2 linked regions of the Homo sapiens genome follow. The protein of the gene in region 1 interacts with the protein of each later gene in a pairwise test. Each region holds a gene or a part of one and is shown in the gene's direction. Other genes may lie near its edges.

The links.
Region 2: the proteins of SIGLEC9 (region 1) and NCS1 interact in binary tests that used the Homo sapiens proteins (3 or more experiments, as listed by UniProt).

What each region holds. Positions count from the first base shown.
Region 1 is NC_000019.10:51,123,342-51,127,089, forward strand, and holds the start of SIGLEC9 (sialic acid-binding Ig-like lectin 9 isoform 2 precursor), read left to right. Parts: upstream 1-1,564; 5' UTR 1,565-1,633; coding exon 1,634-2,054; intron 2,055-2,255; coding exon 2,256-2,534; intron 2,535-2,739; coding exon 2,740-2,787; intron 2,788-3,688; coding exon 3,689-3,748. UniProt on the Homo sapiens protein: Putative adhesion molecule that mediates sialic-acid dependent binding to cells. Preferentially binds to alpha-2,3- or alpha-2,6-linked sialic acid. The sialic acid recognition site may be masked by cis interactions with sialic acids on the same cell surface.
Region 2 is NC_000009.12:130,175,298-130,178,945, forward strand, and holds part of NCS1 (neuronal calcium sensor 1), read left to right. Parts: intron 1-3,648. UniProt on the Homo sapiens protein: Neuronal calcium sensor, regulator of G protein-coupled receptor phosphorylation in a calcium dependent manner. Directly regulates GRK1 (RHOK), but not GRK2 to GRK5. Can substitute for calmodulin. Stimulates PI4KB kinase activity.

The sequences.
Region 1 (3,748 bases):
AGGTGTGGAGGGCCCCAGGGGAGCAGTGCTGAGAGGCCTGACTGAGCCCCTCCTGCTCAAGACAGAACTCAGATGTGGACACCCAGCCCTGCAGAACAGATGCAGGACAACACTGTCAGCCATGGCTCAGCCCTTCTGACCATTGCAGTTGAGATGCTGCAACTTCCCAGGGAGCGACTGGGCAAACATGGGGGCCTGAGGTATTCACGGCAACGTGCACAGATGATAAAACTACCTAGAAAAGCATGGAGACCATTAGCGTTAAAGTGAGGCTGGGGCTGCTTCAGGAGGAAGTGGGGTGTGGCTGACAGGAAGTGGGGTAACAAAGAGGAGGTGTTGCGGCATCCCCAGTGTTCTGTTTCTCTAAGCATGTTCATATGTGTAAACCGCTGAGATTTTTTCTTGGGGGGAAGACATTTTTATCTATATGGCTTATATTTCTCCCAAAAATATTTCTAGAAAACTGACATCGGTCTAAGGAGGCTCCACCACACAGGATACTCCCAGTTCCTCCCAGCCCAGCCACACAGTTACAAAAAATCTTCTGCTGAATTCAGGTGCATGTTTCTTCTCCCATGAAATCCTGCCCATCGCGGAGGGTGCATGCCCCGGGGCTGGTGTCCTCACTCCACATCTCCTGTTCACCGGGACCCCTGGGAGCAGAGCTTGCAGAAGCAAAGCCCCAGGGCCAGCTGATCCCTCATGTTCTGGAGTAACCAGGGAAGTGTGGCTGAGCGAGACATCGGTGGTGAAGAAACCCTTCGTGGTGCAGTGAGGAAAGGAGAAATATCTTCCCTTTTGAAATCTGCCCCTTTTCTTCCGAATTTCCTCCCTTCCAAGCCCCACAGTACAACAGTCACAGCCTCAGTTTCCCAGACCTCCTGCGAGCCAGGCTCCCCTCTGTGTCCTTGGCGTGTATCAACACATAGAATCCTCACCTCCACAGCCCCATGTCCCTCTGCTCAGTCCTCCTGAGATTGAACCCCTGACCTACGGGAGAGTGACCCCATCCTGCCTGTGCCCCCCAACTGAAGCTCCTGCCGTGGACAGCTCAGACGTCAGGAGCCTCCATGTCTCCCCTCCGCACAGTGACCCCTTGGGGACAGTGTCCAGCTCTGCTGTGTTGACCTCGTTGTGCAGAAAGGGGGTGCCCACCTCGTGCTTGCTTGGGGGGGATGAGAGGCTGCCTGCTCACCCCACCTGCACCCCCATCTCTCATGGCCCCAAGTCCCACCTCTGAGCTACGCAGATATCCACAGCCTCTGACTCAGGGGTCTGGCCAGATGGGACTCATTTTCACCCTGCAGAAAATGTCACCTAAGGGGAAGGGCATTGAGAGGGAGGCAGGAGGTGGGGTGGGCCCTGCATGGGGTGGGAATCTGGGTGAGTCTGTCTCCCGCTCTGGCCTCAGGGACCCAGGAGTGAACATGGGGTGGTGGACGGTGGATCTCCCAGGGCTGACCCGGGCCTGACAGTGTCTGGGTGTAAAGTTCCTCCTCTGAGGAGGTCACTGTTCCGACCTCGCCCCTGTCTTCCTGTAGGGCCTCCTCTAAGTCTTGAGCCCGCAGTTCCTGAGAGAAGAACCCTGAGGAACAGACGTTCCCTCGCGGCCCTGGCACCTCTAACCCCAGACATGCTGCTGCTGCTGCTGCCCCTGCTCTGGGGGAGGGAGAGGGCGGAAGGACAGACAAGTAAACTGCTGACGATGCAGAGTTCCGTGACGGTGCAGGAAGGCCTGTGTGTCCATGTGCCCTGCTCCTTCTCCTACCCCTCGCATGGCTGGATTTACCCTGGCCCAGTAGTTCATGGCTACTGGTTCCGGGAAGGGGCCAATACAGACCAGGATGCTCCAGTGGCCACAAACAACCCAGCTCGGGCAGTGTGGGAGGAGACTCGGGACCGATTCCACCTCCTTGGGGACCCACATACCAAGAATTGCACCCTGAGCATCAGAGATGCCAGAAGAAGTGATGCGGGGAGATACTTCTTTCGTATGGAGAAAGGAAGTATAAAATGGAATTATAAACATCACCGGCTCTCTGTGAATGTGACAGGTAAGGCACAGGCTCCAGGAAAGGCCACAGGGAAAGGTCATGGGGGCGGCAGGGAAAGGCTGGGATGGAGCCCCTGCCCCAGGAGAGGGCTTAGGGTGAAGCGAGTTGGCTCAGGGCAGGAGCTGGACCAGAGCCTGAGCTCCCCCCAGGGCTGCACCATGGATCCTCTGACCTGATCCTGAGTCCCCCTCTCTTCACCAGCCTTGACCCACAGGCCCAACATCCTCATCCCAGGCACCCTGGAGTCCGGCTGCCCCCAGAATCTGACCTGCTCTGTGCCCTGGGCCTGTGAGCAGGGGACACCCCCTATGATCTCCTGGATAGGGACCTCCGTGTCCCCCCTGGACCCCTCCACCACCCGCTCCTCGGTGCTCACCCTCATCCCACAGCCCCAGGACCATGGCACCAGCCTCACCTGTCAGGTGACCTTCCCTGGGGCCAGCGTGACCACGAACAAGACCGTCCATCTCAACGTGTCCTGTGAGTGCTGGGCCGGGACGCCTGGGTCCCTGATGGGGTGAGCGTCAAGCCTGGACACTGGGTGCTGGGTCCCGGAATCTGGGCTGGTGGTGGGGTCAGGAGGACACTGGCTCTGCCTTCCCTGTTTATGCGGCTCCTGGGGACAGACAGGGCCAGTGTCCCCAGCCCTCACAGTGATGCGGGTCTCCATGTCTTTCTGTCCCAGACCCGCCTCAGAACTTGACCATGACTGTCTTCCAAGGAGACGGCACAGGTAGGATGGAGCTCCCTCCCTGGGGCTGGAGGAGCAGGGCCTTCAGGTCAGGATGGGGCTGGCTTATTCCTCAACCTGGACTCACTTTGGCAAACAGGGATGTCCTTGTGGGTGAACTCAGGGCCCCTCTGTATCCTTAGGCCCCAAGGCCACTTGTTCCCATCCTCCCATCACCTCCCTTGGACTCCCCCACACACCCCCCCCTCAGCCTCAAACAAGAAGAGGGTGGCATTCACACAGCAGGACCAGGCTTTGAGGCTCCTTCTCATGTATCTCCTGAATACATCTCCACCCTTATCTGTTTATTTCTGATAGTTCTGATCTAAGTACTTCTGGACAGGTGATAAATGTCCATGGGCAAAAATTCAAATTGCAGAGCAAAGGCTCTCCTCCGATGCCTGCCCCCCTCCCCAGAACCAACCACTGTCCATCCAGGCTGCCCTGAGTCTCGGTTTGTACACCTGGAGGATCTCAGAGGTGGTTTGACGTCCGTAGTGAGACTGTCCGCACCCTCCTCTAGGGCTGTGTGTGAGTCCACTGCATGGATGGACTCTGATTTTGTGGCATCTCCTAATGGAAGATCACGGCACTAATTTCATCCTACGGCAGGATAGAACAATCTTGTATCTACTTCCACAGGAATATCTAAGCCTGTGGGTTAAGTTCCTAAAAGCAAAATGTAGCTACATTATATGTTCTTTCTTATTTTGAAAGATAAGCCCAAACTGTTCTCGATGAAGCGGGGAGAAGTTTACATTCCCAGCAGTGAGTGGTGAAAGTGTGTGTTTCCAGAACTTCAGTCTATGTCTGTGTGTCAGTTGCTGTCATCAGTCTCTTTCTGTATCCTTCCTTTTTCTCCAGATCTATGTATCTCTCTGACCCTCTGTCTCTTTTTCTACAGTATCCACAGTCTTGGGAAATGGCTCATCTCTGTCACTCCCAGAGGGCCAGTCTCTGCGCC
Region 2 (3,648 bases), on another chromosome or scaffold:
GGAGTGGAGCCATCTGCTCTTTGTTCTGGGGGATTCTGTGTATGGGGTCAAGAGAAGCGCCCCAGGAAGGACTCTCAAATGTCAGAATCTCCTGGTTGATTAATAAACATGAAGGTACCTGGGCTGCCCTCCCGGATTTCCGATTCTTTAGGTCTGGCTGGGGCCCAGGAATTTGCATCCTTGACACGTGTTTGTGCTGCAGATGGTGGTCCTGGGGAGCCCGGATTGAAGACCACAGTTCCAGTGTATGCTGGGGGTCCTAGCCCACCTCATGCATAGCTGGCCACAGTGCCAAGGGGGCCTAGAGGGGAGCCATGGGTCCACGTCCGAGTCGGTGCTGGGCAGTGTCCTTGGTGGGCGTCTCTGGCTCTGTCTGTGGTGGTCTGTGTGTGTGAGGAAGCAGGAGTGTCTAAAGGCCCCAGCAGTGTGGCCCTCACTGGACACACTGGGATTCCACCTGGCTCAAACCCTAACCCAGTCCTCAGCCTTCCACCAGCAACAGGTTAGGGAGAGATGGACAGGGTCACTCTGCAGCCAAGACTTAGACAGTGGCAGTCAGCATTGCGGGCGGCCCAGTTTCTTTCAGGTCTGGCCCACTCTCTTCCAACCTGCTGGTGAGGCTGTTGGCTTCCCCGTGTGTCCCGGCTGTGGGATGGGCCGGTCCCCTCACCTACCTGAGCCTCAGTTTCCTCATCTGCAAAATAGGTGTGCTCATGGCACCTGAACTCAGAGGATGTGAGAAGTCAACAGGGTAACTCATGTGCAGTGTGGGGCCTGATATGTGGCGTGGGGTATGTGGTCAGTAAATGCCAGTGATCGTAATTAATGCTTATTTGTTCATTTTCTTTCTTTCTTTCTTTCTTTCTTTCTTTCTTTCTTTCTTTCTTTCTTTCTTTCTTTTTTTTTTTTTTTGGAGACAGGGTCTGGCTGTGTTGCCCTGACTGGAGTGCAATGGTGCAATCATGGCTCACTTAAACCTTGACCTCCTGGGTCCAAGCAATCCTCCTGCCTCAGCCTCCCCAGTAGCTGGGACCATGGGTGTACAACACCACACCTGGCTAATTAAAAACATTTTTTTTGTAGAGTTAGGGTCTTGCCCTTTTGCCTGGGCTGGTCTCAAACTCTTGGCCTCAAGCAATCCTCCTGCCTTGGCTTCCCAAAGTTCTGGGATCACAGGCCTGAGCCACCGCACCCGGCCTTAATATATATCATTTTGACCATACAATACAGCTTCATCTTGAACTGGGCTTATGTGTATTTTGTGGGCAAATTTCTTCTCTCCACAGAGGAATCTTGCTGACTCTGGTCTTTGTGCCTGGCACACAGAAGGTGACATCTATGACTGCTGTGCCTGAATCCCAGCAGGGGCCTGCTCTTACGTGTAGCGGCCTCCGCAGCCCCACTTGTGAATTGTGAAGCTGCCCTGGCCTGTTCATTAAGTGCTCACTGTGTGCCAGGCATGGAGACAGAGGAGTGGACCAGAGAGATGGAATCCCTGGCCTCAGGAGGAAAGCAGCCGGGTTATCCGAAAACTCCAGCATGGGGGTGCAAGCCATTTGTGGTGGTCTGAGCTGCATCCCCTTAAAGGCTTCTGAGGCCACTGCAGGCCCAAGCCAGCCAGGCCCAAGAGGCACAACCTCTGCCCTCCTCCCTTCTCCTTCTCCTCCCCATGATGTTTGCGGTCCTTCCCAGGGACCCTCGGTCTGGGACTCAGGGGTGGCCACCTCCTCCCTGTTGCCTTTGGTCAGCCCAGGCTCTGCCTTGACCTTGCCTGCCAACCTTGACTCTCCTCTGCCTTTTCCCTAATGCCCAGAATGGTGCCGGCACACAGGAGCAGGTGGAGGGCAGGAGCCCACGGCTGACGCCTCTGTGACCCCGAGCAGAGGACGGGTCCCTGGCTCCAGGTTGGGGTCAGCAGTTGGGTTCTTGGGTGTCTCTGGTTGTGGACTGTCCTGGGGCCCATGAGGGCCCCTTCCTCTAGGGTGAGGAATATTCTCTGATCATCACTCCCCACCCAACTCTGCTCAACCAGGGTGGGCCAAGCTGCTGCCTTCAGGAGGCAGTCACTGGAGACCATCTTGGGACAAAGCTGGGGGTTGTGTGATGGCTGCGTGGGGACATGGAGGGCCCACAGCCAGGCACAGGGTGAGCCACAAGGAGAGGAAAGGACCAAAGCAAGGGAGGGGCTTCGGCCGTCCCTGTACATCCCGTGTGCGTGGGCATGAACCAAGGAGGCCTTTCCTTTCTCTGACAGTGGAGCAGAGCAGCAGCAGGAGAGACTGAGGTGGACTCTCGGCATCGGGATGGGCATCTGGGCAAGAAACATCACCTGTGTTATTAGGAGAGGACTCGATCCCCTGCGGTGCGGGGCTGGGTCCTCACTCGGCCTTGGTGACCTTGGGGAAGTCCCTTGGCCTCTCTGAGCACCAGCTTGCTCATCCTTCAGACCTGCCTTCCAACTCCATGGATCTAAACAGGAGAAGCTTTGCAGTCCGGGGAGCGGGCCAGAAAGACAAAGGGGTTGTTTGGCAGGAGAGTCCCTGGGAGGGAAGGAGGGCTCAGGGGCGAGTTCTGCGGTTCTGGCCCCTTCCTTGGGCAAACCTCCTCTCACCGGCTTCACTTTCCGCCTCTGGAAAATGGGCAGTTTTGGAAGGCCTCAGTGTTGAGGAGGATTCGGGGCATATGAAGGGTTTAGCTTGGTGCCTGGTTCTGAGGGGAACCTTTATTTATTTATATTTTTATTTCTATAGAGATGGGATCTCGCTATGTTGGCCAGGCTAGTCTCGAACTCCTGGCCTCAAGTGATCTCCTCCCATCTCGGCCTCCTGAAGTGTTGGGATTACAGGCATGAGCTGCTGCGCCTGGCCATGAGGGGAACCTTTCAAAACTTTCCTGGCAGCAGCTGGTCCTTGGGGTGCAAGTCTTCCGCATCCAGGGCAGGTGGCCTGTGGCCACCCCCTTGTACAGAGAGGGAAGGGGCAGCTGGTGAATGGCAGGGACTCACCCAGGCCCCAGAGCCCAGCCTCCTCCTCACAGGCTCTTTTTGCCCTTTCTGCCTCCTTGGGCTCCAGGTTAAATGGGACCCAGCTTCTCCCTTCCCTACATCACCCCACAGAATTCTCCCATCACCCCGTGTCAGGGGAAAGCCCTTTTCCCCGGCAGAGGCCTTGGGATCGGACCCAGCTCCTGCTGCTCCCAAGGCCTGTCTTAAACCCCTTTGGGGCAAGGCATGGGCAGTGGAGGGGGGTGGTGTCCTGTCGAGTGGGCCGGGCCCATGTCACCCTCTGAGAGGCCACAGGAAGGAATTTGGACATTATTCGAGATCCGTAGGGAGCCGTGGAAGGGAGGTGATGGAGACACATTAGATTTGGGTTTAGAAAAATTGTTGTTGGCTGCAGTCCCGGAATGGACTGGCGGGGAAGAGGGGTGGTAATGAGACCGAAGGTGATCATGGTGATGAACTGGAGTATCGGTGGGGATGACATGAAAGACAGATTCCAGATATATTTAGGAGGAAGACTCAGTAGGACTTGGTTTCCCTCCCCTCCCCTCCCCTCCCCTCCCCTCCCCTCCCCTCCCCTCCCTTCTTTCCCCTCCCCTGCCCTCCCCTCCCCTTCCCTCCCCTTCCCTCCCCTTCCCTCCTCTTTT